4 linked regions of the Homo sapiens genome follow. The protein of the gene in region 4 interacts with the protein of the main gene of each other region in a pairwise test. Each region holds a gene or a part of one and is shown on either strand. Other genes may lie near its edges.

Region 1 (7,026 bases), on a different chromosome or scaffold from region 4:
GACTCTAGGAATCACCTAGGGAGCTTTTAAAAATCCCCAAAGCCAAGCCGCCCCCCAAACCCATTAAATCAGAATCCCTGTGGTGGGACTCAGGCACTGGAATTTTTGAAACTTCCTGTGGTGATGCCGATATGCAGCCAAAGTTAAGATCCACTGATTTAACCAGTGTGGTTTCTGAGGATGAGAAGGCTCCATCTAGGACTAGGAATGGGATTTATTAATAGTGATTGTTAATAGCAGCTAACAGGGTGGTCACACTGCCATTCCAGGGGCACCATTCACAGTTTAATCTATAGGAGTTGAGGACTTGCTGTGAGGTACCCAACCAGCCTGTTGTATGTGGCAGCCCTGGTAGCCAGCCCCAAGCGCTCAACTCTGTACGAGGCATTTGCCAAGCACCTTGCAAGTATCACCTCGTTTATGATATCACAAGTTCATGGAGGAGGATTCTAATGTAACGCTCATTTTGCAGAGGAGGAAACACCAGATCAAAAGCAGCTGTCCCATCTCAACTCTGCTGTTCAGTGGGAAACAGCCATAGACAATAAGTGGGCGTGGTGTGTCCCAGGGCTGTGGGATTTGGTCCAAAGGCTGTAGTTTCCAGGCTCCAGCTCCAGAGGGTAGGGAGGCATGGACAGAGCTGACATTCGAATGCAAGTCTGAATGGCTTCAGCCTCCCTATGCTACTGCTTCCTCCTGCATTTCTTTAACAGCCATGAAGAATACAAACAAGCCACTTACCTTTCTCCTTCGTGATTGGCCCGCTCCTCCTTCTCCCTGCTAGCTCTTCTCCTGGGTGTTCACCTTTTTCTTTCCAGAGAGGACATGTCTAATGCCCACTTCCCCTCTTAGCTGCTCCACAGCCACTCCCCGGATGGACCCCAGAGTCTTGGATCTCTCGGGATGCCCAGAAGCCTTGGGAACAACCCCAGTCCTCTGCCTCAGGAGGCCCAGCTGACCGCCCAAGACAGCCTGGATTTTCTTGGCCTGCCACCTGTGCTTTATTGAGTAGTCTCTTTTATAACAGGACCTGCATGAGGTTCTTCCACCCAGAGACCTTGGTTAAATAAATTAAAAGGCAGAAAGGCTGGCTCAGCTTTCTAAGTCCTGGGGGTCCCCAGCAACCCTCCTCACCCCACCCCTCATAGGTGTATACGTGGATCTCACAGGGGTTGTTTGCTGGGGTTCAGCACCCTGAGTGGCAAAGGCGATGGTTTTTCCCCTGCAGCTCTGAGCTAAGGCACCAGCCACATCCCTCAGGGTTCCTGCCTCACCCACCACACCAGCCTGGCCTCAGGGAAATACCATCATCCACAGCTCACTGCTGATTTAATTAATTTTTTTTTTAAGGCCTGGAGCAAGTCATTGAGCCAGGGCTGACCACAGATTGGAGCTGGGGTGCAGGACTGGCTTCATAATTGACAGGGCCCAGTGCAAAATAAAAAAGGAGTGCCACTTGTTCAAAATGCATTTGGAATTTCAAGACAACAACAACAGAAGGTCAAACCAAACAGGGCCCCTCTTCCAAGGGCAACCCTGTGTGACTGAGTCCGACCGTCTGGCCCTGGGGCAGCCAACCCACTGGCTGGCCGGCAACTTACGTATGGGGCGAAGGTCTCAGCCAGGTCAATCACAGATTTTTCCCCTGGAAGTTAACAGAAGAGACAGAGACCACCCATTGGAAGTGAAGGAAACCAAAGTCAAAACATCCCAAGGCCTCTGATGGTTTCCCCACACAGCAGCGAGAATAACCTTTTTATAACTGAATCAGGTGCGCCTTTCCCCGACTTGAACCCACCCGTCCACCCTCACTCCAGGCGCTCTCCCAGTCTCTCAGCTCACACCACTCCCAGCACACTATGTCTTTTTGTTCCCTGAACAGACCCAGCTTGTTCAAGGTACATGAGTCACACATGCTGTTCCCTAGGCCCCAAATGGCCTCCTTCCTCATTCTCAACTGTCAGATCTTAATGTCGCCTCCTCAGAGAGGCCCTCACCACACCTGGCTGACAGCGGGTCCCTCCTTAGTCTCTATGGGAGCCTGGAGCCTTTTGTGGTCTTTCGTTTTCATTGGCTTGTGTGTGTGCTGACTGTTGGCCTCCCCAGCAGAGTGTGGGTTCTGTGAGCGCCGGGATCTCACTTGTTTAGTTCTCCTCTGTGTGTCCAGTGTCTACCACAGTGCCAGGAAAATCACAGGAACTCGAACATGTGTGGAATGCATGACTATTTTTATTATTACGCACTTTCTCAGTGGTCATTCCCGTTACTCAGGAGCTCTTGATTTTGTGTACTTATTTTGTATCTGGCCACATTCTTGAACTCTCTCAGTTTCAAATGCGTTTCTGTTCATCCATGTGGGAATTCTGGGTGTATGGCTTTATCTATACAAATATTAAGGCTGCCATCTCCTTTCCTAAAGTTATCCAACTTATTCTATTTCCTACCTTATCACTTTGGCAACATACAGTGAGTTCTTTTAAGGATGGTGTGGCTGATGAAAAGCAAGCAGCTCTGGAAGATTTGGGGGGCACAGAGGGACTAAGAACAGGTGAATAGCTGGGGAGCCAAAGTAGTTATTAAAGTGTGGCATGAGCTGAACAGGAAGAGAGCTGAGGTCACGGGAAGGAAAGAGCGTAGCTGAGAATTACTCAGTCAAAGGATGGGCGACACTTGACAATAGGAATAGGCAGCAAAAGAGAGAAGATCTCAAAGCTCCAATCTGAATCCAGGTGTTCTAATACGTAAGCACCCAGAGAGCTTGATCCCACAGACAATAAAATACCCACACTAAGGAGTGGGAGCTGATACAGCCAACTATGTATTTTGTCGAGTGCCCATTTTAAAGTAACTCTAAGTACTATTATGATCACTTTTTAAGGACCAAAAAATTAGGAAGGATATAACCTGAAAGCAAACAGCCTTATGAAAAAGATGAGAAAAAAAGGGAAGTTAATAAGAATTCTCATTACAGAAATGGTTCTGAGAATATGAATTTGAGAAAAAAATTAACATGTCTATCCTCTGACACTTCACCTGGCTACATCCAAAATACCTTATAATAATTAACACTTTTTCCAGGTTACACAGCACCTTTACGTATGTGGTCTTACTTGCTCCTCCTAACAGCAGCCTGTGATGGGTCATCATAGAAATGCCAAACACGGGTCTGGTGGCCACCGTTGCAAAGTACAGTCTCCTGTTTTATGCCCAGATTCCTGACATATCACCTTGCAACGTGCACCCCGTCAAACCCCCCTCTCTGTATTTTCTGACCCCAATAAGCTGTTTGCCACTTTCAGGTTTTCACACATCCCTGTTCATCCATGAAACTGCATTTGGGCAGAGAATGGTTCTCATCCCCTTCCCAGTGTGGGGGAGGAAATGAGAGTCTGTCCACAGGCAACATGGTGGCCCTCAAGCAGGGGCTGAAGCCTGGTGTTTGAAATGGGGACACACTCCCTCAGTTGCCACATGAAAATCACATGCCACCGGGCACTGGTTCCCCAAGACCAAAGAAAACTTCAAAAGTTGCATTGGCAATTACCAACAAATGTGTATTGATCGCCTACTGCATACCAGACCAGACACTGCCAACTGTCAGGGCCTGGCATATAATAGGAGCTCAACCTCTGCAAAGCTAGACTCATGAAGAGAGCAGAGCTAAAGTCTAAATTTTCACTGAAATTCCTATAAGCAGCTAATGGCCAGGCAGTGTCTATACCTTTGAGGCCTTTTTTTTTTTAAGTCAGTCTCTTTCTCTCTCTCTCTCTCTCTCTCTCTCTCTCTCTCTCTCTCTCTCTCTCTCTCTGCTGTATTTGCTTTTGGGCATTTCAAGGATAAGGAGCCAGTTTGTAGAAGAGGGAGCCCTTGTGTCTGAATTTTAAGTAAACTGACAGATTTCAAACCGCTGTGGTAGAAGTGGGGCCATTGAGTAGCCAAACATTTGACAACTATCCCTTTGCTATTAGGGACACAGCAGTCTCTGAATTTCATGCTCTCCTCTTTGATGTGAAGAAAATGAAAAGCTGAACAGTTGTGGAACTGTGGATAGAGTTAGACAATAAGGGTAATACTTTCTTTTTATCACTGCATTTATCCAAATTGTTTTTAACAAGTACATGTTACTCTTTTTAAATATATTTTCCTTTTCTGTTACAAGCTCATTGAAAAACAGAAACTCAAACATAATTCCTTTTATAGTGGGCGAAAACTGTTGCAAAGCCAGGCCAAAAATATGCATGTGTCAACCCGTATTTTGTGACCCGTTATCATTTTACTTCTATACTCCAGACACATCGCAAACATCATCTCCAATTCTGACAGCCCTGTGCATGCGTTCCGTTATGATTTCCATTTTATAAGTGAAGAAACTAAGGCTCAGAAAGTCAGGTAGCTTGCCCAGGTATGCGCAGTAGCAGGTGGCCAAGGTCCATCTGACATGAAAACCTTGCCCTTCAACTGTGTCCCATGGGGCAGGGTGAGATTATAGGCTCAGCTCTGAGCTACTCCTCTGCCCATCTCTACAGCCGCCATGTACTCGGAGATCCAGAGGGAGCGGGCAGACATTGGGGGCCTGATGGCCCGGCCAGAATACAGAGAGTGGAATCCGGAGCTCATCAAGCCCAAGAAGCTGCTGAACCCCGTGAAGGCCTCTCGGAGTCACCAGGAGCTCCACCGGGAGCTGCTCATGAACCACAGAAGGTAGGGATGAAGCCCTGCTGCCTGGGCCCCGCAAGCACCTGGGCCTGTGGGGGATGGGGAAGGTGACCCTGGAGGAAAGCAGAGCTGGCTTTCATCCTGGGGCTCCTGGAGACTGAGGAAGGCTGAGGTGCCCCACATGATCACCGGCAAAACCTGTAAAGACCCTGTCCCCAGTGGGTCCCTGGGAACCAGAGGGACCAAAAAGCCCTGTTCTCTTGCCCAGCCACCCATTTCATGCCCACACTCCAGATACATTTACTGAGTACCTACTATGTGCTGGGCACTGAGCCCAGACCTGGGGATACAAGAATGAATGGGACCCAGTTCCTGTCCTCACAGACAGGGACGGGTGCATAGCCAGGCAGTAGGATGGGTGCATTGATGAGGGCATAAATAGGCCTGAGACCCCAGAGGAGGAACCCGAGAGGGGTCTAAAATGACTTCACAGGAGCGGTGCTGCCTCAGCTATGACCTGAAGGGGGACTGGAGTTAGCCAGGCCGGAGGTGGGTGCTGGATGGCAGAGGGAACCTCATATGTAAATGAACAGGAAACAGGAGTCACTCACTGTGCCTGGGGCATCGATTGCGTGGTGCAGGCCAGGGCAGAAGGATGGACTAAGGAAAGGTCTACAGCAGGGGCACAAGGTGTGGTGGGCCCGTCTGGTGAGGTGGGATGGGGGAGCTCACAATACCAAAGTGGGCAGGAATGTTACAGAGGCCCAGGATGGTGGCTGGCTTTTCCGTGGAAGGCCGTGGTGTGCAATGACAGAGACGAGCCAGAGGGGCATCTGGGAGGTGGCAGGGGTGGGATGGGGCAATTGATGGGATGTGAATTGGAGAAGAGGAAGGCTGAGCCTCCCCTTGGAGGACTGGGAAATACTCCTGCTAACCAGTAACAGCGTGAACGCAGCGGTGCCTTCAGAGCGCCCTCTGCTGGCCGATTCTGGTATTAGAGCCGGTTGTGATTTCTATTCTTGTTTTCAGTTGTGTGACCAATATCCTAACAGTTATCATTTTGTACACTGAGTCGCTTTTGTTTTTGTTTTCAATTAGTATTATAATATGAGCATTTTCTCTGAATGGTTTTTAGACTCGTCCCTTTAATATCAAAAAACATCACCACAATCAAAAACAAAAGCTTAAAGACAAATCAGAGAAAGTATTTGTAATATAAATAAATTTTATTTTTAAAACTCACATATACAAAAAAAAATTCAGATCTCTTGTTTTTTTTCTTTTTTTCTTTTTTTTTGTTTGAGATGAAGTCTCGCTCTGTCGCCCAGGCTGGAGTGCAGTGGCGCGACCTCAGCTCACTGCAAGCTCCACCTCCCAGGTTCATGCCATTCTCCTGCCTCAGCCTCCCAAGTAGCAGGGACTACAGGTGCCCGCCACCACACTCGGCTAATTCTTTTGTATTTCTAGTAGAGACAGGGTTTCACTGTGTTAGCCAGGATGGTCTCGGTCTCCTGACCTCGTGATCCGCCCTCCTCGGCCTCCCAAAGTGCTGGGATTACAGGCGTGAGCCACTGTGCCTGGCCCAGATCTCTTACAATGGACAAGGAAAAAATGAATAAAAAGTAATACAGTACAGCCAGACATGGTGGCTCACACCTGTAATCCCAACACTTTGGGAGGCCGAGGCAGGAGGATCACTTGATCCCAGGAGTTCAAGGCTGCAGTGAGCTATGATTGCACCACTGCACTCCAGCCTGGGCAACAGAGCAAGTCCTTGTCTGTAAAAATAATATTGATAATACAGTTAATTCACAAAAGAAGAAATGCAAATGGCTGGTAAACATATCAAATGTTGTTCCATGTGACTAATAAAGAAACAAATGAAAAGCAGATATTCTTTCTGGCCTACCAGATTCTCAAATATGAAAAGATTGGCTGGTGATGGTGGGGAGAAATAGATGCTCTTGTACACTGTTCAGAGGAGGATACACTGGATAACCTTTCTCAGGCACAGATAGATATATGTACCTCAAATCTTTTTAAAGAGCCTGACCCAGCAATTCTACCTTTAGGAAAGTATCCTAAGAAAATAACCAGAAATAACATAAAACTTGGTCTCTGCAGTCAAACAGGCCTGGGTTCAAATCCTCATGTGGCCTACCTGTAGCTATGTCTTGGACTGGTATCTTCAGCCCTAGGAGCCTCAGTTTCTGTCCCTGTAAAATGGGACAGTAATGGGTCCACCTCCAAGGCTACAGGGAGGATTGCACAAGATAATAATGGGGGTTGGTGTCACCGCAGGAAGCAGCCCTGAGGCTGGGGGAAGCGGGAAGGTGATGGTCTCCTGACAGCTCCCCACTTCCCACCCCA
Region 2 (7,026 bases), on a different chromosome or scaffold from region 4:
GACTTTTCCTAAAGTGCTGTTTGCTAGTCAATGTGCCTTCTCTGATGTTCTACAAGGAGAGAACACCTCATCAAGCCAGTTTGTCTTTGTGGTGATATCTCTGATGTTGAAAAAGACCTGACCTTTGCCTGAAGGCTTCTCCACATTCACTACACTGATAGGGTTTTTCTTCATTGTGGATTCTTACATGCTGAGCAAGGTGTGAGTTTAGTCGGAAGGCTTTCTGGCATATGTTACACTTGAAAGGTTTTTCTCCAGTATGAATTCTGTGGTGTCGAATAAGGTCTGAGGTCAAACTGAAAGCTTTTCCACACTCGTTACATTGATGGCTTTTGGAGTGACTATGGATTCTCTGATGGTGGGTGAGGAGTAAGGCCTGACTAAAGGTTTTTCCACACTCCTTGCACTCACAGGGCTCCTCCTGACTGTGAATTCTCTGATGTCGATTAAGGTGAGAGCTGCGCCTAAAATTTTTTCCACAATGGATACATAGATAAGGTTTCTCTCCAGTATGAATTCTGAGATGTTCCAAAAGGCCTGCATTCTGGCTAAAGACTTTGCCACACTCATTGCACTGATAAGGCTTCTCACCAAGATGGATTTTCTGATGTCTGACGAGGTGTGAACTCCTCTGAAAGGCTTTCCCACACTCATGACACTGATGACCTTTCTCTCTAGAGAGGACTTTCTTATGTCCTGTAAGACTGGAACTCTGACACACATCAGACTCGCAGAGTTTCTTTCCCGTGTGTGTACTCGCATGTTCAATCAGGTCCAAGTGCTGGATGAATCTCTGCTCACGTTCTGAGCATTTATACTCAATCTTCTCTTTGGGCTTGGCCTGATGCCTTTCCAAGTTAGAGCCCTCATTATGAGCCTCCATGGGTTCAGATATTTTCCCAGATGACTCTACTCTTCCACAAGAGTCTGTTACTACAATAAGCTTCCCATTCTCAATCCTTGTCTCCTCACCTGCAATATTAAATATATACCACCAATTACTTGTCTTTTGATGCTTGGGGAAAGGAATCTGCAACTAAAAGGAAAAAAAAATATAATGAAGCCATGTGTGCAAAGTAAAAACATTGTGGATGCTTGTGATTGCGTAAAATAGTTACAGAATGGTACACAAGACATTGTTAACTGTGACTGTCTTTGGGGAAAGATGGGGAATTCTGGTGGGAGGTGACTTATTTTAAATAGTTTAAATTTTATCATGGGATACCACACACAGAGAAGCTAGCAAGCAAGCAAATAAACTGTCTTAAAGGGCATGGCTGTACAGTCTTGAAGATAACTTGTCACATGGAAAATAAAAAAAGCTAGGTTAATTGAGGCCCCCAGGGCCCATAAGAAAGGGACGACATTTTAACTGAAAATGAAGAAATGTAGATGTGGTGCCCAATTTTATCACTAACTGTGTAATCTTAAAAAAGTAAGGTAAATCATCTGGGCTCTGTGTCCTCATCCATAAAGAAAGAATAATGTACTATAAGACCTTGACAATAACATGAAGTTCACAAAAATGCCTTCGCCTTTCCTAATCTCCTTGGACAGCAGTAACTGCTCTCCTGTGTGGTTCAACAGAGCTTTAATCTCAACGCTATGATAATTTATTCATGTCTGTCGCTCCCTGCACCCCTGATGCACAATGCCCCAAGAGACTGTAAGCACATGCAGAGCAGACTTTGTTTTCTCTAGCACAGAGCCTGGTACATAACAGACATTAAACAAATGTTTACTAAATAAATGGCCTGTGTCCTAAGGGTGAAATTAAATGAAAATAGAGAAAACTTAAGCTCAGATACACAAGCAGACGGGTGAGAAGAATGTGAAGTTTTTGTTTTGTTTCATTTTATATTTTTATTTACCAGTTTTTCTTGTAGCTAAGGATAACTCTTCAAAGGCTAGGAGCATGACTGGGGATGCAAAGTCAGAATGAGAGAGTAAAAGGAAAGCTGGATGGAGAAAATAGAAGAAAGACTCTAAGCAGCACTAATAACAAACAAAAGAGGGTTAATCAGTGTGAGCAAGTTAATTCAGCAGATAAGTAAAAAGGAAAGAGTGGATGACAGCTGAAAGGAAAAGTGAAAGTGAAGGAATTAGTAAGGAGACATCAGAGAAAGGAAGGTCACAGGTGGGGAGTGAATAAATTAAATAATGTAATAATGTACTGTGTACAAAGACCCTCTACAACAGAATGAAGTATTCAGTCCTACACAGGGGCAGGGGGCAAGAGTGAGAGATTAAGGGAAAGGAATAAGACTCTTCCAGTAATGACATAATCACATATACAACTTTAAAAAAGCAAGAGAGGATGAAACCAAAAAACAACCTGAACTTTGAATATAAAATAACATTTTTAACAGATCCAGAGGGTAAGGGACATTTTCAAGAGTCTACTGACATTACATTCACTTTTTTTGAGACATGGTCTTGCTCTGTTGCCAACGCTGGAGTACAGTGGTGCAATCACATAGCTCACTGCAGTCTTGAACTCCTGGGCTCAAGCAATCCTCTTGCCTCAGCCTCCCAAGTGGCTAGAACTACAGCTGCATGCCACCACGCCTAGCTATTTATTTATTTTTTGTAGAGGACAGGGTTTCACTATGTTGCCCAGGCTGGTCTCAAACATCTGGCTTCAAGCAATCCTCCCACTCTGGCTTCCCAAAGTAGTGGGATTACAGCAGCCACATTTACTTTTTGTATTTAAACTATACACCCATCACTGATTACATGGTAATCATTTCTGCAAGGCTAATTCATTTCTGCAAGGCTATTGAGAAAAGGTAGGCCCCTTTCTTTCAGCTACTTTATTCAGGATGCTCCCAGAAGAAAGGTAATTTGAAGCTGACTTGGAAATTGAACAGAGGAATAGGTAGCATGTAAAGCATGATTTTACATATAAAACCAGTCATTCATCAAACAGACATTTATTGAGGGTCTACACTAGGCCAGGGACTGTAGCTGACTCAGAAAACAAAACAAAACCCCTTCCCTTTTAGTCTGGCAAGAGAAAAAGAGAAGCAAACTAGAAACTGCAATATAATGTAATTAGTTCTATGACAGAAAAAAAAAAGAAGAAATGAAAAAATGTAAGGAGCAAAAATTAGGAAGAAGAATTTCAGTGACAAAGAAAATAAAGGAGGCTGGGCGAGTGGCTTGCACCTATAATGCCAGCACTGTGAGAGGCCCAAATGGGAGAAATGCTTAAGACCAGGAGTTCGAGACCAGCCAGGGCAACAGAGGGAGACCCTGTCTCTACAAATAATAATAATAAAAAGCCAGGTGTGGTGGCACACACACCGGTAGTCCCAGATACTTGGGAGGCTGAGGTGGGAGGATCACTTGAGCCTGGAAGGTCAAGGCTGTAGTGAGCTATGACTGCACCATTGTACTCCAGCCTGAAGACAGAGCAAGACCCTGTCTCAATAGAAAAACAACAAAAAAGAAAGTATAGAACCAAAAAAAAAAAAAAATCCAGGTGACGTTTAGAAATGAAAGATAGTGGCCATTTACAATAATTTGAAGGAAATGTTAAAAAATGAGTAATGAAGCATGTGGCTTTCTTTGCCTTGATTAAGAAACTAGCAGTACTTGTTTTTTTTTTTGTTTGTTTGTTTTTTGAGACAGAGTCTTGCTGTGTCGCCCAGGCTGAAGTGTAGTGGCGTGATCTCAGCTCACTGCAATCTCAGCCTCCTGGATTCAAGCAGTTCTCTGCCTCAGCCTCCCGAGTAGCTGGGATTACAGGCACCCGCCACCAAACCTGGCTAATTTTTGTATTTTTAGTAGAGACAGTGTTTCACCATCTTGGCCAGGCTGGTCTTGAACTCCTGACCTCGTATACCTACCCACCTTGGCCCCCCAAAGTGTTGGGTTTACAGGCATGAGCCACCATGCCTGGCCACTATTTGCTTTTTTAAGAGATGTTGCCCAGACTGAAGTGCAGTGCAACAATCATTGCTCACTGCAGCCTTGAACTGGGCTCAAGTGATCCTTCTCCCTTAGCTTCCCAAGTAGCTGGCCTGGCACTGCTTTTTTTATTCACCCCTACAGTAAGAGGAAGAAGAGCAAGGTGAAGGTCCAGGTTCCCTTTGTACCCTTTTCTTGCTATTTTGTTCAGCTAAAATATTTGGGGTGATAGATATCTCTTATCTCTTGATAGTGGTCCTGATTAGACCACAATTATTTCGCATTTGTGAAAACTCATTGACCTGTACATCTAAAAAGAGTGAATTTTACTACATATAAATTATGCTTCAGTAAACCTGACTCAAAACAAAAGCAAAAAACAAAATACAAGGGTGCTAAGCACAACCTCAGAGGGAAAGGCACAGTCCACCACGTCTCACACACAGAAGATGCAATCCAATTCTTACCCTTCTCTTTCTCAGGCTTTGTAACTTCACACTCATGCCGAACCTGCTGTTCCTGTACTCCTTTCAGAGGGGCCATCTCCTCCACAAGTATTTTTTGTTTCTTTGGCTGGTCTGGGTCCTAGGGACAATTAGGTATATGGAGGCATAATTAGATATATGTGGGTTTAGGAAACTGCTGTTCAGTAAAACACCTAGGTGTTAAAAAAGAGAAGAAAGAGAAACCCCAGAGGGGCAAAGAAAAGAAGATGGGGAATCTGGTGCACATTCAGTTTTCTCCAAGCAAGGGCCAGGTAAGGTTGAGGTAAGACCTAAGGAAATTAACAGCTAGACTGGAAAAAAACTGAATCAAAGCTTAGTAATTCTCCTTCCGCTGATGAGCCCATGTCCACCTGTCTGGCCAGAGATCTCAATTCCTGCATTCCTGAAAAAGAGCACATCTGACCCTTACCACCTGTTGTCCTGTTTCTCCAAGATCCAGCTGCAAATCCTCCAGAACAACAACCACGTCCTCCCTGCTCTCTGGGTGATGCTCCTGCACCCGGGCCTGGAGCTCCTTAGGCAGGATGATCAGAAACTGCTCCAGCACCAGCAGCTCCAGGATCTGCTCCTTGGTATGGGTCTCGGGCTGTAGCCACTGTTGACAGAGCTCCCGGAGCCGACTTAGTGCTTCTCGAGGTCCTGTGGTCTCTTCATAACGCAACTGCCTGAATTGTTTGCACAATGGCTCCTGTCCAAGGCCTTTACTGTTTCCTTGCAGCTTGAATCCCTGTTCCCAAGTAGAGTAGTGATCCTCCCTCACTACCCGAAGCCCCTCCTTCTTCAGATTCAGGGGAGCCAGGGAATGGGCACTCACCAATGCTGTTGCCATCCCCAGCTTCAGACTGTTCTCCTTGTTTTGGAGAACTTTCTTTGGACTGTATCTTCAGAGACACTCCTAAAATTATAGTAACAAGAGTGACAGAAACAGTAATAGTACTGCTAACAAGAACAGTAACATTTTCTTGGGTTTATACATTTCCTATTATCCATTTTTTCTCTCTAAAACAACCATTTCTAAACATACATACAGAAGGAAAAAACTATCTTACAGAATACCATCTAATGTAGAAGGAATAATAGATTTGAAAAATCACCATTTTGTAGCCCTCAAAATAACTGAGGCTAGGCACTGTGGCTTACACTTGTCATCTCAGCACTTTGGGAGGCTGAGGTGGGAAGACTGCTTAAGCCCAGGAGTTTGAGTCCAGCCTGGGCAACATAGTGACACCAGGCATGGTGGCACATGCCTGTAATCCAAGCTACTCGGGAGGCTGAGGAGGGAGAACTGCTTGAGCCCAGGAGTCTGAGTTCAGCCTGGGCAACCAGAGCAAGACCTATATCAAAAAAGGAAGAAAAGAGAGAAAAAGAATGAAAGAAAGAAAGAAAAAGAAAAGAAAAAAGACAAGTGAAAGACAAGGAAATAGAGAAAGTTTTTTCAGACAAAAAAGACACCATAAAGCTGTTGGATGTTCAGTGTAGTAGTTAGTTATGGCTGGGAAAACGTTATATGGAGCCGGAATCCTGGGAAACATCTACATGTAAGAAACAGAAGTGAGATGGAACTGGAAAGGTAGGAGGAGAAAAAAGACAATAGTATCCAGAAGGTCAAGGAGGTCTATTTCTGTAAATGTGGAATGGTGGAAAGACCCTGGGCCTTAGACAGGCCTGGGTTCCAATCCAGCCCTGTCACTTACATGTTGTGACCTGGGGCAAGTAACTTATCCTTTTGGACTTAGTTTACTCATTTGTAAAATGAAGATAATACCTAATTCACAGAAGTTTTGAGGTAAATGAGATAATTCTAAAGAACAGAAGGAATTCACTGATTTATAAGGGAAATGATATGAGCACAGTGTTCAAGAGTGTGAAATGCTATAAGATGGTGAATTAATCTAAGACCTGGCATAGACACTTGATTCAAAAACAAAGATGTCATTAGTGACCTCTGTGAAGGTAATTTTGGTAGTGAGAATAGCTAGCCTGCCATAGGAAATGAGAAAATGGAGAGTGAGCATAAATGACAAATTTCAAAAAAGTAATACATTGAATGGAACAAGAAAGATAGGGCAGAAACTAGAAAGGGCTAATGTAGAGTATAAGTATTTTTGTGACTTCAATTACTGTCCTTATGCTGATGATTTCCTTATTCTTCAGGTCAGATATCTCAAGTGTCAGACCTGAATTTCCTTCTGCCTATTTGGGACCAGGATACCCTACAGAAGCCTCTCAAATCCAACATGTCAAAAATGAACTCAGACAATTCCCTACCATCCTTTGGGGCAGGCCCTTGGTATGTGGGGATTTAGCATTCTTGATTTTGACTATGCTTGAGTATCCCTATAGATCAGTGAAACACCATCTGTCAGCTGCTGACACATGCCTTTGAATCAATGTGCATGCGGTAAGTGGGAGAACGGGAGAAGGCTCACTTAATCAGTGGCTTAGCCTCCAAACAGTTTGCTGTTATATATTCCTGAATGTGTATATAGTTAACATTTCCCAGCTGATAATTATTTTTCTTAGTCAAAATGAACTTAAACTTTAAAAAGCCAATTCCTAGTATTCTTAATATAAGTAAAAAAGTCCAAGAAAGTGATGATTATCAGTG
Region 3 (7,026 bases), on a different chromosome or scaffold from region 4:
CTCTCGTGGGTATTGAACCCAAGTGAGATGAAAACACTCTGTCCCCCTCTCCTTCTCTCTCTGTCTCTCTCTCTCTCTGTCTGTCTCTCTCTCATATATTAATTCATGATAGTGTTATTCAAATAGGCTCAAATTGGTAAGAACTGAAATGCCCATCTTCTCATCAATTGATTAAAAAAACTATATAGTATACAGTACTATCCAGCAATACAAAAGAGTGAACTGTCGATACAACATGGAAGTATGGCGGAAACATCATGCAAAGTGAAGTAAGTCAAACACAGAAGTCTACATATGATTCTATTAATATGAATTTCCAGAAATGACAAAACTTTTTTGACCAGTGGTTTGCCTGGGACCCAGAGTCTGGGAAGGGCTAAAGAGAGATGAAGGAACTTTTTGAGATGATGGAATGTTCTATATTTTAAATAGGGTGGTGGGTTATATACTCGTATACAGTTATCAAAGCTCATCATCTGTACCCTTAAAGTGAATGCATTTTACCTCAATAAAGCTGTTAGAAAAAAAAAAATCCCCTCATATTCATAGGTAATGTTTCTTTGCTTCTGTTTATATACATTAAATTTTTTTCTCGTAAATTTAAATGAACTTGTTGAGATTATGCTACAGCTTATTTAAAATAAGTTCCACCTGGGGAGAAAATGTTTGCTAAGGGGACAAAGTAATAAGTTCAGTGGGGTTGCTGTTTTAGATGAAATGTTTAGGGAAGGCTTTTCTTTTTTTGATAAAAGGACATTTGAGTGGATACAGAGTGACATGAGTTCACTTAATGTTTTCACGTCTTGTCCATTTCTTACTGAATTTCTGTCTAGGCGTTTTGTAGTTTATGTTGCTATTACAAATGAGATATTTTTCTTACCTTATTTCATGGGCTAATAATCTTTAAATTACATTTGTTTGCATTTTCATTGCTTCTAATCTCCCATTTGATTTTAACAGAGACTATGCAGGTCATTGTTGTGTGTGTTAATCTCTGTTTTTCCTTAGCTCAGTGTAGCTTCAAAATGTACATAGAACCTGAAAGAGACCTGAAATGGAAACCAAAGATGCAAGTGCAGTGTTTTGTAACATAATTTTAATTTTACTGTCAAATAGAACGAGTATAGGATACAAATAAGGATGGTGGCTGAAGGGTGGGAGAAGTGAAAAGAAGGTATTCTTAAATTTCACTTGCAGATTAAGAGGGAATGTCTGCCAGCAGTTGACTGGCCAGGTATAGATTAGAAATGACCTCTGGCAAGATGTTTTGTTTCATTTGAATGGGAGGGCATCTTGTAGATTTCACGCCTGACTTTGAACTTCTGGTAAGCGATGCACCTGGAACCGGCTTGAGTGACTTAAGGGCTCAGCAGTATCTGCCCGGTGGAAACATTAGTGTCATGCTCATGCCTTACCAGCAGATGGCAGCAAAATGCTGTGTTAAAATGTTCTTACCCTACTTAAATTTAAGTCCTGTGGTAAACAGATACTGTATATTTTTCTTTCAGTTAAGACCAAGGTAGATATAATGCCCTTATTTCCCCTAAATAGATACAACTAATACTACCATTGTGTACTGACACTTTACAGTAAATGTTTTTAGAAATCTACATGATATGGCTTACCTAAAAACATCTTATTTTGTATAGGTTTTGTTAGCAACTCCTTCACTGAAATACTTTCCACAGTATTGTTATTTTACATATAGTTTTCTGCCTCAGATTTTTCTAAGAGAACCATTTGTCATAATATGTTCTAGACCTAAATAACGTTTATTAAACAATACGTGAGTTTTCACTCACCTGTGGAGGCTGTGTGTGTGTATGTATGTGTAGGTGTGTGTGTAAAACATTAATGATTTTTTTCTTTTATTAACAAGCCAAAAATTAAGGTGACTTTTACAAGAGAGCATTTTCATCCTGGGTAGTTAGGTCTGATCAATTGATCTTTTACATGGAATTGCTGACTTCTAGGAGGTGCCCGGCATAACCAGTCCTCGTCCGTCTTCTGCCCCCAGCCAGGGATGCCATGGGGTGAACGCCATCAAGAACCAACCTTTGGCTTAATGAAAGATCTGAGGCCAGTGACAAAAGACTGTGACTTGAGTCACATAGCAGATAAATTATTATAGTTGTTTTTCCTTCCCCAGAGATCAGTCAATTAGGAGAGGTTTTTGGAACTGTTTTAGAAAATATTTTTACAATGCTGAGGTTATTCACATAATGCATTGCTTAATTCTTATAAACTCCAAAGTTCGTGTAAAACTAAGAATTCAGAATAGACTTCTATCTTGTGAAAAAACAATTTGTCAAGATTACTTGACATATATCTGAGATGCTTTGGAATTTTTACAGACCACAGAAAAACTTTTTTTTATTACTTAATATACCCTAAAACAACACGGTGTGCCAGAGCATAGTGTATCTGTAATTTAGAGCAGCAGATGTTGCTACACATGCTTCTCTTTAAGACCGAGAAGAAGCACAAGAGAAAATAAAACAAAAAGTTCAAAACAGAAGAGAAACATGAAACAGTGCAGAGATGAAGGAGTTGAGTAGCCAGAGGCAGTTGGTTAAATTAGCAAAGACAGGGGATGTGGTGATCTGTACTCCGTGTTTTTTGTGTATATCTTTTTAAACACTTTGTCTTTCTCCTTTCATTAACCCAGACGTGATAACATTCTACAAAATTTATTTTCCATTAAAACCAGACTTGAATTAAACTGAGGAAAAACGTACTTGATATTCATTACAGTGTTTGGTTGCTTCACATTTTATATGAGAATTGGCCACAGTTTGCTGTGCCATGGTAATGTTTGTTGTTTTGTCTTGGAGTCTGCTAATACTTTCATTTTGGTTTTAACTCCAGCTGATCCTACAGTTAAAGACTTAATCGGAGGCTTCACGGCTCTTCACTATGCAGCCATGCATGGCCGGGCCCGCATTGCACGCTTGATGTTAGAATCTGAATACAGGAGCGACATCATTAATGCAAAAAGCAATGACGGCTGGACTCCCCTCCATGTGGCTGCCCACTACGGCAGGGACTCATTTGTCCGGCTCCTCCTGGAGTTCAAGGCTGAGGTTGACCCACTCAGTGATAAAGGTACCACACCGCTTCAGCTCGCCATTATCCGAGAGAGGTCAAGCTGTGTGAAAATCCTCCTGGACCACAATGCCAACATCGACATTCAGAATGGTTTCCTGTTGCGATACGCCGTGATCAAAAGCAATCACTCTTATTGCCGAATGTTCCTTCAGAGAGGGGCAGACACAAACTTGGGTCGCTTAGAAGACGGACAGACTCCTTTACACTTATCTGCCCTTAGGGATGATGTGCTGTGTGCACGGATGTTATATAATTACGGAGCAGACACGAACACACGGAACTATGAAGGACAGACCCCATTGGCTGTTTCAATAAGTATTTCTGGAAGTAGTCGACCATGTTTGGATTTCTTACAAGAAGTCACAAGTATGTAATATAATTATTACTTTATTGCATTTTTTAAAAATTTGCATCTTCTGAGGAGCTTAATGTGTTTTTGCAACTTAAGATGACTAGATATTAATCATTCCTATAACCACTGCTTGGTAAGCGATGCCTCATTCTTCTGAAATAAAAAAAAAACTTTGACTGTATCACAAGATTTCATAAAAATTCAATTGTGTTTCTAAATGTAATAGGGGTAGACAGTAAGAGTGAGGGAAGGAATGGAGAGAAGGACAGAGAGGAGAATTTTTTTTAAATGAACAAAGATCTGTGTTAGAACAAGGCAATTCCTGTTGGTCATAAGGATAATCTTACCTGGCTTCCATTGACTGCAAGTTGAGGAGTTAGAGGGGGAATTTTGGATCTTAGATTCCTTACCTGTGAAAATATCCTAGAATTTGTGCTTTATTGCTAAGTTGTTCACGTTTTAATTGTGGCTTTTCTGCTTCATGAGAGCCCACATGAAATGGAGCAGTGGTGCTGTGTATTTAGGGATACCACTCGTGGAAGTTAAGGATGCTAGAAATTGTTGTAAGAAAATATTTGCAGTGGGAAGTTTGGCACCACTGTCCCTGGACCACATGGCTTCCATTGTATTTGAACGTTTTTGTGTGGGTGCTTTTTTTAAAGCCTGGAAGTGTCTGGCCCACTTTGTGTAGTAACGCGTGCGTCCTAGTTGTTCCTCTGATGGGGTATCAGCTTGTGTGTACTTAGCCATCCTCTCTTGTCAAGCTTCCACGTGACCAGTTGAATGTGTGTCTCATGCTTAATGTCCACCATGAAGCTAAAATCTGTAAACAAAATGGATTTTGCTGTCTGCTGAACTTTTTAATGAGTTCCTTTTTCCTCACTGGTTTTGAGCCTTCGGTCATTATTATACAAGAGGACATATTAACATCCTGGGTACCAGCTACTAGAGGGCAAGGGCTCTACCTGACCTGCTTGTAAGTAACCCACTCTACCCCTTGGAGCGGGCCTTTGGAGTACACATTTGCTTTATGAAGAAACAAAATGTAATTTGAATTTTGCAGATTCATGGAAGAAAAGATGCAATTATTATCACTAATGTTTTCAGACTAAAGCGTAAGAAAAAATCACACTGCTTAGTCTACTTAGTGCTGGCCAGTACCAGTTTCTGTGATGTTGGAAATGGTCTCTCCTTGCTGTCCAGTATAGTAGCCACTGGTCCCATGTGGCTGCTGAGCACCTATTAATGTGACCGTTGCCACTGAGGAACTGAAATTTCAATTTTATTTAATTGCGATTTAAGTTTAAATGGCCACAAGTGCCTGGTGGTTCCTTTGTTGGTCCACACAGATCTGCCTGCCTTGGGAGAGGTATCTGGGGCTGACTGGTGGGTGTTCCATTGCAGAAAGCTTCTGAGACACACAGAAGTCGCCACAGTTGGGAGACGTGATACCCGCAGTGCTGCAGTCCTGCTTGCCTTGTTGTTGTTCTCTCAACTTCTACATTAGAGACTTAGTTATGATGAGTGTGGCCGCCCTTAGGAAGGCATGTTATATACTCACTTAAATGCCTCAGCCCCCTTTTTTAAAATACTTTGTTCAGTGGTTAATGGCATAGACTAGAGCTAGACTGCAAGAGTTTGAGCCTTAACTCTATCCCATGTTAGCTGTGACCTTGGGCAGGTCGCCTAATCTCTCTGTGCCTTAGTGTCCTCACCTTCAAATTAAGATAATACAGGCTTGTTATGAGGATTAAATGAGTTAATATTTATAATGCACTTAACACTTAAAATGTTCTTGTTCTTTGTAATTGTTTTTCAAGGTGAAGTGTGTAACTAATAAAGTGAGGGGGGATTAACAGCGAGGACTGGCTTGCCACCAACAGAGCAAATCTTTAGATTCATATTCAACTCAAGCCTCCCAGTTTCAACCCTGTATACAACTGTCCAGAGTCTGTACATGGAGGCACGCAGCCACGTGGCCGAGAGGAGCCGCTGGGCAGGACAAGCACGTGGGCGGCTGCCGTGTGTCCCTGAGCCCTCAGAGCTGCCCCTAGCAGTGCTGTTGGACAGCAGGAATGTTGAGTTAAAGACTCACATGCACTTTAAAATTTGAGCAGATAGAAATGTCAGTGGGGACTGCCTCTGTCTGTGCTTAGGTTCTCCACTGTACGAGGAGCAGAGCTGTGCGCCTAGGAGGTCCTCAGTAGTCCTGGCAGTCTGGCTGACTGCGCACAGCGAGGGGTGGGGACTGAGGAAGCACAGGCTGCTTTCCTGAGTGCAGGGTCCTCCGTCTGTTAAGGCTCCAGTTGTCCTTTGTCTTCAGGTGCCTCAACATAATTTAGTATTTCTTGACTCTCCAGTGGTGTTTCCTGCCAAAAGCAAATTTGGTGTTTCTGCTTCACCTGTGTGTTCTTTGGCTCTAAATAGGTTTTCTTTTCCTGGTGAACAATATGGGCTAGAAGGAGCAGCTGTGGCTGATGCTCTGGACTGAGCTTTCTCATGAAAAGCAGCTTGAAAGAAGGTTGGTTGGTTCAGGGAGCACTAAATCAAAGCTGAGAGCTTCTTCTAGCCCGCGTGCTGTGGGCACCGCAGCCCCAGGCATCATGCTGTTGGCTTATGATTGGAGATCGCAGACTGCCGAGGTATAAGGACAGCAGAGGGGCCACATGGTGGTCTTCATTCAGGGACATTTTACTCTTCATCACACTGTTTTGCCTAGAAACAGATTATTTAAATTGGAAGAGACCAAAAAAATTATAATACCAGAATTTAAAAACTCCTCTGGCCTTTTGGAAAAATTGCCGTAAAAACTCTGATCTATATAGTGCAAAAAAAAAAAAAAAACAGAGCGCACCCGTGGCTTGGTAATAAACTAACATCTGCTTGTGACTTGTTAGTGCTGAGTAGGGGGAGAGGCCATGAAGAGCTGCTGTTGCTGTTCCCTACAGCCAGCCCGCTGTCCAGCATTCAGACCTCAGAACCTCCCCCTTCCAGGACGTCAGGAGCGCAGCAGGGCCCATCCATGGAGGAGCCACTTCTCTGTGCCCAGGAATGATAAACACAGCTAAGAGGAGCCATAGCACCTGCCTGAATAATGAGCGCCACCTGTGGGAGGAAAGCTGCGTCCTGCTTAGTTGGCAGTGTTTATAAGAAGCCAGTTTTTGGTTTTTTACTTGTAGCCAAAAAAAAAAAAAAAAGAATGGAATGAATAAATTAAAGAGAGAACAGTGAAGGTGTGACCGATGTCAAGTAGAAATGGTAGTGACGGCTGGGCGCAGTGGCTCATGCCTGTAATCCTAGCACTTTGGGAGGCTGAGGCGGGTGGGTCACCTGAGGTCAGGAGTTTGAGGCCAGCCTGGCCAACGTGGTGAAACCCCATCTCTACTAAAAATACAAAAATTAGCCGGGCATGGTGGCACATGCCTGTAATCCCAGTTACTTGGAAGGCTGAGGCAGGAGAATCGCTTGAACCCAGGAGGCAGAGGTTGCAGTGAGCCAAGATTGTGCTACTGCACTCCGGCCTGGGTGACAAGAGTGAAACTCTCTCAAGAAAAAAAAGAGGAAAG
Region 4 (6,985 bases):
TATGACCCAGAAATTCCACTTCTAGGTATCCATCCTAGGAGAATGCATGAAATTGTCAAGTGCAGCACTGTTTTTAATATGGAAAACTGGAAACAGTCAAAATGTCAATCAGCCGAAAAATGGATAAATTGCAGTGAATTCAAGCAATGAAAGAGTTTTCAGTAGTTAAAATTCATAAACTGGAGCTATATGAAACAACATGGATAAATGCAAAAAAAAAAAAAAACAAAAAAAGTTTGCAGAAAAATGTGTACAATATAACACTATTTACATAAATTTCTAAAACACACAAGTCGCAATTATGTATTGTTGGTAGACACATTCATAAAAGGTAAAACATACATACAGGTAAAACTGGAAAACCATAAATAGAGGGCTACCTTGAATCAAATGTGGCAAGATCTGACTGGTTGTAGGATTTCAGTTCTGTGTGCATGGTTATTTGTTACGTTATTCTCTGTACCATACTTTTCTGCATGTTTCAAATACTCATATTTTTTTTCTTTTTAATGAAAGGATCTAGGCATTTAGAAATAAGGGTAAAGGGGGATAAATGGCTACATCAGTCCTCAAAGAGGATGATCTCCTGGGATGGGATTAGGAGGGAGGCTGAGCCCTGAGTCCAGGGATTACAGGGATTAATTCAGATCATCCCCCTAGGTTGATCACCTGGCTGACATGCCCACCACTCCTGGCCCCTCAGAGATGCATTTCTGGACCACAGCCCACCTCCCTCATATCTCTTAAGCTCTTTTCTCCCGCCTTTTAACTGCCTCCCTCCGCCCTCAACCCAGTACTGGTCTGGCCAGGGTTTGACCAAGTTTGGCTCCTGAAAATAGACTGGTTCAGGTCTCTCTTAAATGTTCTCCCAAATCAAGGGTGAAAGGTGACCTGCATGCCAGGAGCCAGGGAGAGATTAGTCCTAATACTCAGGATCAGAGCTCCCTGAGGAGAGCTTGAACCCTGGATGTCACCATCGACAATTTCCCTGCTGTGCCTCCCTACATTCACCAAGAGGTCAGCAGTCAAGGCCAACCGCTAACGTGGCCCTGCTGGCGGAGGCAGAACCAGGAGGAGCTGCGCTGGGCAGAAAGAACAGCCAGTAAGCTTCCAGAACTAGTCTTTGCCAGTTCCCAGAGCACTGCATCCCTCAAGCCCCCAGTGCAGCCCCTTTCTACCACCCCTGACAAATGCTCTGCTCCCCAAATCTGGACAGGCTTGGCGTCTGCAGTAAACCCTCTGCAGAAGGGGTCTGGGTGGGCTTGTTCAACTTTCCCCACAACTGTGTCACCTTGGCCACAGGATCTGGAGTAGAATCTTGTCATCTGGGAGCAAAGAAAACATTCTTGATCTCTGCTCATCATCTCTCTGCTGAGATAATGAGAGAGGCAGAGGAAGAAAAAAGGAGCAAGGAGTTGGGGGAGGGAGAGAGACTTATGGGCAACATCATCATTAATAGGCAACATTTAACACCACAAATATGAAATCATGTTAAATGATAAGACAGGGCATTAACTGGGTAGCTGGGAGATTGACCTTTAACTCATTTATCCTGTGTCAGAAACTCTGTCAGATGCTGGAAATACAAAGATAACTAAGATCCCCCTAACCTTCAGGAAACTGGGCAGAGCCCGGACAACCCGGAGGGCCTGGTGCTGTTACAGACAAATAGGGGCGAGCACCACAAAAGCGCCTAGTGGGGCAGGGATGGGGTGCCAGTCAGAGAAGGCCACCTGGAGGTGACCCCCAGCTGAAAAGGAGGGGGAAGTCCAGGCAAAGAAGGGCTTCCTTCCCGTGGAACAGGGATGGCTTGTGGACGTGGGAGCCTGTGGGATGTCAGAGACATTTGAGCCAGAGCAACTCCATCTTGAATAGAAGCTGGGTAAAATGAGGCTGAGACCTACTGGGCTGCATTCCCAGACGTTTAAGGAATTCTAAGTCACAGGATGAGATAGGAGGTTGGCACAAGACACAGGTCATAAAGACCTTGCTGATAAAACACCTTGCAGTAAAGAAGCCGGCCAAAACCCACTAAAACCAAGATGGCAGTGAGAGTGACCTCTAGTAATCCTCACACTGTTACACTCCCACCAGTGCCATGACAGTTTACAAATGCCATGGCAACATCAGAAAGTTACCCTACATTGTCTGAAAGGGGGTGTCAGGAATAAACCACCCCTTGTTTAGCATATCATCAAGAAATAACCAAAAAAAGCAGCCCTTGGGGCTGCTCTGTCTATGGAGTAGCCATTCTTTATTCCTTTACTTTCCTAATAAACTTGCTTTTAGTTTATCCTATGGACCTCCCTGAATTCTTTCTTGCGTGAGATTCAAGAACCCTCTGTTGCGGTCTGGATCCGGATCCCTTTCCTGCAGCGGGGGGAACGCAGACAATACTAGCCCTCGACCTGTGAGTGGATGTGCCAGAGAGGGGATCCGCGTGTGTCCCTGGCTTAGGAATCTTCCAGCCATTTCCTGGATGTGCTGGGGAGCCCCTGTTCCCAACTGTGCCCACTTCTATCCTTGCCGAGACCTGCCGAGATGTGAGAACTGCCTCTTCAAGAGCCGGCACCCAGTAGTCATAGCCTGAATAAACGAATGGTTGAAGACGTGAAATAAGCCCCCTGGGCTTCCAAATCTCCCTTCCACGAGAGTGAACATCAGTCGTGCCCACTCTGAGCGGGCTACTGTGGGGGCGTGGCTCGCAGCCCACCGGGTGTGGGACCGGAAGGGAAGACAGGGCGGAGGAGAGGGGGTCTTCCGGCCCTGAGGCTTGATGGGGCCACCGGAGGGCTCCTCCTAAGAGGGTCCTTGGCCCTGGCTCGGTGGGGGGTCGCGGAAAGCGGAGAGGTCAGGGCCCTGCCGTTCGCCCATCCGGGCCTCGACTTCCCTCCTCCGGCCCCCAGGCTGCCGAGGGGCCACCGGGCAGGGGTGGGCAGGGCCTGGGGCCGGAGTCAGCGCGGACTGCTAGGTGGGGGCGCCGGCCGGGCGGGGGAGGGAGGGAAGGAGGGGCGCGCGTGTCTGCGCTTTTGGAGGAAACAGTCCCACCTCGTCCTTTGCCGTCCCCATTGCTGAGCATGACCGGGCCCTGACACCTGGTGCAGAAGGGTCCCTGGGCACAGCAGACCCCGGGGGGACCCGCCGCCAGAACCAGGGGATCTCGCTCCTCCCTCTTGGGGCAGCCATAAGCCTAGGAGCTCCTGACGCTGTCCGGGCCCCGCGGCTCCCCGCGCTCTCTAGGGGAGAGCCTTGGGGCGTATCCGGGGTCGCGCTCACCCTCCCGCGCCGCCCCCTGCACGGGCTCGGAGCTCCCGAGTGCTGGGAGGGCTTCCGGGCGGCGGCGAGCGGCGGGGGGCGGTGTCAGGAGGCCCGGCCAGGCCCCGCCCCCTCGTCCGCCCTCCCTCCCTCCCTGCGCACCCGGCTCGGGTCCCCGGGCTCGCGGCTGCGGCTTCTGCTCAGGGAGGCGGAAGGCGGCGGCGGGAGCGGTCATGGAGGCGGGCGCCGGAGCCGGCGCGGGAGCCGCGGGCTGGAGCTGCCCGGGCCCAGGTCAGAGCCGCCCCTCCGTCACCTGTCTACCGCCCCTCCTTTCTCTCCTCCATCCCTCCTCCTTCCAGACCCCCAGGTGCTCCCGGCCTCCGCGGCTCCCCTTTCTCCGCCCAAAGTCTTCCTCCCTCCATCCTGGCCTCCACCGGGGCCCGGTCTCCATCCTTCCGGCCTGGGACTGAGGCTTCCGCGCACCGGCCGCATCCTGCCTGGTGGTCCCTCCCCAGCGCGTCTCTCCACTTCAGTCCGACGGTGCTTCCAGCCTTCGGGACTGCAGACCCTACACCTCCTGCAGCCCCGGAGACTCCTGAGCGCGGGGCGAGGGTGGGGTGGGCAAGGTCCAGCGAGAGAATGGGAGGAGAGGGGAGGGGAGCGGTCGCAGCCCTACCCCTTCCCGCACGCCCCCCACTCCTCCCTCCCTCCATCTGTAGGCCACCTCAGCCTTTCAGCCTCTTCTTCACTGGCTCCCGCCCTCTTTCAGTCTTGGCCCTCTCCTCCCTGTCCCCCCGGACTAAATACGCACACCCCCTCTTTCTTTCTGTGCAAGCAAGAGGGTCCTGGAACAGCGGGTTCTGAGGAGGCTGGGAGGCAGGGCTGAGAGGTGGCCGAGAGAGAGGAGTCGCAGAGCCGCCAGAGTGAGTCAGGCACCTCCACTGGGATTACAGATCCCAGAGCCTCGAGGAGCTGGAAGACATGTCCCCTTCTTTCCTCTGCACCCCAGCCCGCAGCCAGCCCCCCACCCCCCAGCCCCTCCTTTCTCCCTGCTCTCAGGACCCACAGTGACCACTCTAGGCTCCTATGAGGCTTCCGAGGGCTGTGAGAGGAAGAAGGGCCAACGCTGGGGGTCCCTGGAACGACGGGGGATGCAAGCTATGGAGGGTGAGTTTTCCCAAAAGGCTTCTTTCTTTCCCCTCCCCTCCTCCCTTAATTCCCTTCTTTCCTCCCTCTGACCCCCAGGCCTCTGAGCCAGGACACAGCCCTTCCCTCAGTTCATCTTAGCCCCTCTTCCTGCAGCTCAGAGCTCCAGCCCTTCCCAGGGCTCAGGCTTTGACAGAAGTTCAGGATGCATCCCTTCGGGACCCCAATCACCCCCCAGCTAACCAGGTTATGTGTCCCGAGGGAGCTGCCAGACAGAGAAAGAGGCCTTGTTGGACAGAGCTTTGAAGCAGCCTTTCAGCAGGGGGTTTGTCCTCACTGCCTGCCGACCCAGATCCCAAGCTGTCTCTTATTTTAAAAAGCAAGGAACTGGGCATGTGAATTGTCTTTCTGGGGCCACCAACATTAACTTCGAATGGAAGCCTGTGGCTTTGGTTCTTTAGGATACCTTATTGCCTGAAAGAGAGAGCCTAGGAGGGGGCGCGTGAGGCCATCCTCCCAACACACGTGTATCCCCACCACACCCATGTGACTTGGCAGTTGCTGCCAACACCAGGCCCCTGGAAGGACGCTGGTCCATTTGCCAGTACTTCCTGTGAAGTGTTGCACGTTGCACATTCAGTATGGGCAAACCTGCTCCCCCTAAGGGGGACAGATGGCACGAAGGGTCCCAGTTGAACCTAAGGCTGCTGATATTAGATAAAGTAAGACCAGAGATTCAGAATTTTAAAACAAAGCAAACAATCACCATCCAGACAACATTTTGCTATTTATAGGGACTGCGTTGCAGTAAAGGAGCGGGTGCTCACAACCAGAGGCTGGGGGCCAGCACCAAACCCCAGTTTTTTTAATGCATTAAAATGGTAGGCTTTCTTTTACACACAAGTACAGCCTAAAACTTCCCCTGAAATCTACTTTGTGGTCAGCAGAGTAGGAGGGGCCTCATATGGCTCAGCTAGGGGAGAGGAGACCTTGTGACATGCAGCAGGGAAAAACAAGGTGGACCTTGTAGAAAATTTCAAACAGGTATTTAATAATATACATTTGAAAGGGCGCCCGAGTTTGTCCAATGAAACCTCTACAATCAGATATTTTCTTTCTCTACCTGCTGACGGGCAATGTTTTCTTATTATGGAAAGGCTGATTTTTCACAAGCCACCTGGATAGTTTTTGTTTGGTTGTTTTTGTTTGTTTGTTTGTTTGAGACGGAGACTCACTCTGTTGCCCAGGCTGGAGTGCCAGTGGCTCGATCTCGCCTCACTGCAACCTCCAGTTCCCAGGTTCAAGCGATTCTCCTGCCTTAGCCTCCCAAGTAGCTGGGATTACAGGCGTGTACTACCACGCCCAGCTAATTTTTTTGTATTTTTAGTAGAGAAGGGGTTTCACCATGTTGACCGGGCTGGTTTGGAACTCCTGGCCTCAAGTAATCCACCCACCTCAGCCTCCCAAAGTGCTAGGATTACAGGCATGAGCCAGCATGCCTGGTCAGTTTTGTTTTGTTTTTTAACTTTCAAGAAATCTCCAAACTGTAACTGTTACCCCATTTGACCGAAAGATCCGCTCACTGTCTCCTTTCTTGACTACTTGTCCTGCTACTCAGAGGCCAGCCTAGAAGAAGCAGGTAATCCTGTGCAAGTGTCTCATGGCTGAGCGGGCACCAGCCTGCCCACAGGCAGTGATAGGAGGCTACCAAGTGCAACATTGGTCCAGGAAGGGCCTGGGAGGTGGAGGGGCTGCTTCTCAACTTGACTCTCACACCTGAGGACTCATCTTGAGTACAGGTCTTGCCCCGGGGCTCCTTGGGGGACACCAGGTGGCACTAGTATGTCATCTCTGCCCTGGCATAGTGAGTTTGAGGGCCCTGGAAGGACGGCAGAAAGGAAGTTGATGCTGACTCCTTGGTGGGATGGCTGTGTCTCCTAGGGGAGGTGTTACTCCCAGCTCTCTATGAGGAGGAAGAGGAAGAGGAAGAGGAGGAAGAAGAGGTGGAAGAAGAAGAAGAACAAGTGCAGAAAGGTGGCAGTGTTGGCTCTCTGTCAGTCAACAAGCACCGGGGACTGAGCCTCACGGAGACAGAGCTGGAGGAGCTGCGGGCTCAGGTGCTGCAGCTGGTGGCAGAACTGGAGGAGACCCGGGAACTGGCAGGGCAGCATGAGGATGACTCCTTGGAGCTACAGGGTGAGTGCCTGGGCCAGGGCCCAGTGCCCGGGCCCAGAGGCTCTGCACTCCCCTGGATCCGAGCTTGACACTGGTGCCCCTCTCCCTGCAGGGCTCCTGGAGGATGAACGGCTAGCCAGCGCCCAGCAGGCAGAGGTGTTCACCAAGCAGATCCAGCAGCTCCAAGGTAATTCCCAGGACTTGGACTGGAGGGAGGTGGCCATCCAAGTGGTCACCTAAGTACTTTTTTCCTGAGGGTTTGACTGAAGCACAGCAGATAAAAATAACCAAATTCAGTAATTTCACCTCATTTTCCTCTACTAGTCTCACCCTTTTCCTCTCCTTGTCTCTCCATCCTCCTCTGTCCCCAGTTTTCTTTCTTTGCACATCTACCTGGCTCTTCTGTCCT

Evidence for each region.
Region 1: the proteins of CCDC136 (region 4) and FAM107A interact in binary tests that used the Homo sapiens proteins (3 or more experiments, as listed by UniProt).
Region 2: the proteins of CCDC136 (region 4) and ZSCAN26 interact in binary tests that used the Homo sapiens proteins (3 or more experiments, as listed by UniProt).
Region 3: the proteins of CCDC136 (region 4) and ASB7 interact in binary tests that used the Homo sapiens proteins (3 or more experiments, as listed by UniProt).

What each region holds. Positions count from the first base shown.
Region 1 is NC_000003.12:58,567,366-58,574,391, reverse strand, and holds part of FAM107A (actin-associated protein FAM107A), read left to right. Parts: exon of another isoform or gene 1-1,057; intron 1,058-1,601; exon of another isoform or gene 1,602-4,066; intron 4,067-4,526; coding exon of another isoform or gene 4,527-4,531; coding exon 4,532-4,701; intron 4,702-7,026. UniProt on the Homo sapiens protein: Stress-inducible actin-binding protein that plays a role in synaptic and cognitive functions by modulating actin filamentous (F-actin) dynamics. Mediates polymerization of globular actin to F-actin. Also binds to, stabilizes and bundles F-actin.
Region 2 is NC_000006.12:28,270,141-28,277,166, reverse strand, and holds part of ZSCAN26 (zinc finger and SCAN domain-containing protein 26), read right to left. Parts: intron 5,314-7,026; 5' UTR 5,248-5,313; coding exon 4,828-5,247; exon of another isoform or gene 4,498-4,827; coding exon 4,380-4,497; intron 1,037-4,379; coding exon of another isoform or gene 973-1,036; coding exon 71-972; 3' UTR 1-70. UniProt on the Homo sapiens protein: May be involved in transcriptional regulation.
Region 3 is NC_000015.10:100,626,569-100,633,594, forward strand, and holds part of ASB7 (ankyrin repeat and SOCS box protein 7), read left to right. Parts: intron 1-2,868; coding exon 2,869-3,474; coding exon of another isoform or gene 3,475-3,482; exon of another isoform or gene 3,483-3,641; intron 3,642-7,026. UniProt on the Homo sapiens protein: Probable substrate-recognition component of a SCF-like ECS (Elongin-Cullin-SOCS-box protein) E3 ubiquitin-protein ligase complex which mediates the ubiquitination and subsequent proteasomal degradation of target proteins.
Region 4 is NC_000007.14:128,788,006-128,794,990, forward strand, and holds the start of CCDC136 (coiled-coil domain-containing protein 136), read left to right. Parts: upstream 1-3,962; 5' UTR 3,963-4,314; coding exon of another isoform or gene 4,315-4,406; coding exon 4,407-4,422; intron 4,423-6,342; coding exon 6,343-6,597; intron 6,598-6,688; coding exon 6,689-6,763; intron 6,764-6,985. UniProt on the Homo sapiens protein: May play a role in acrosome formation in spermatogenesis and in fertilization.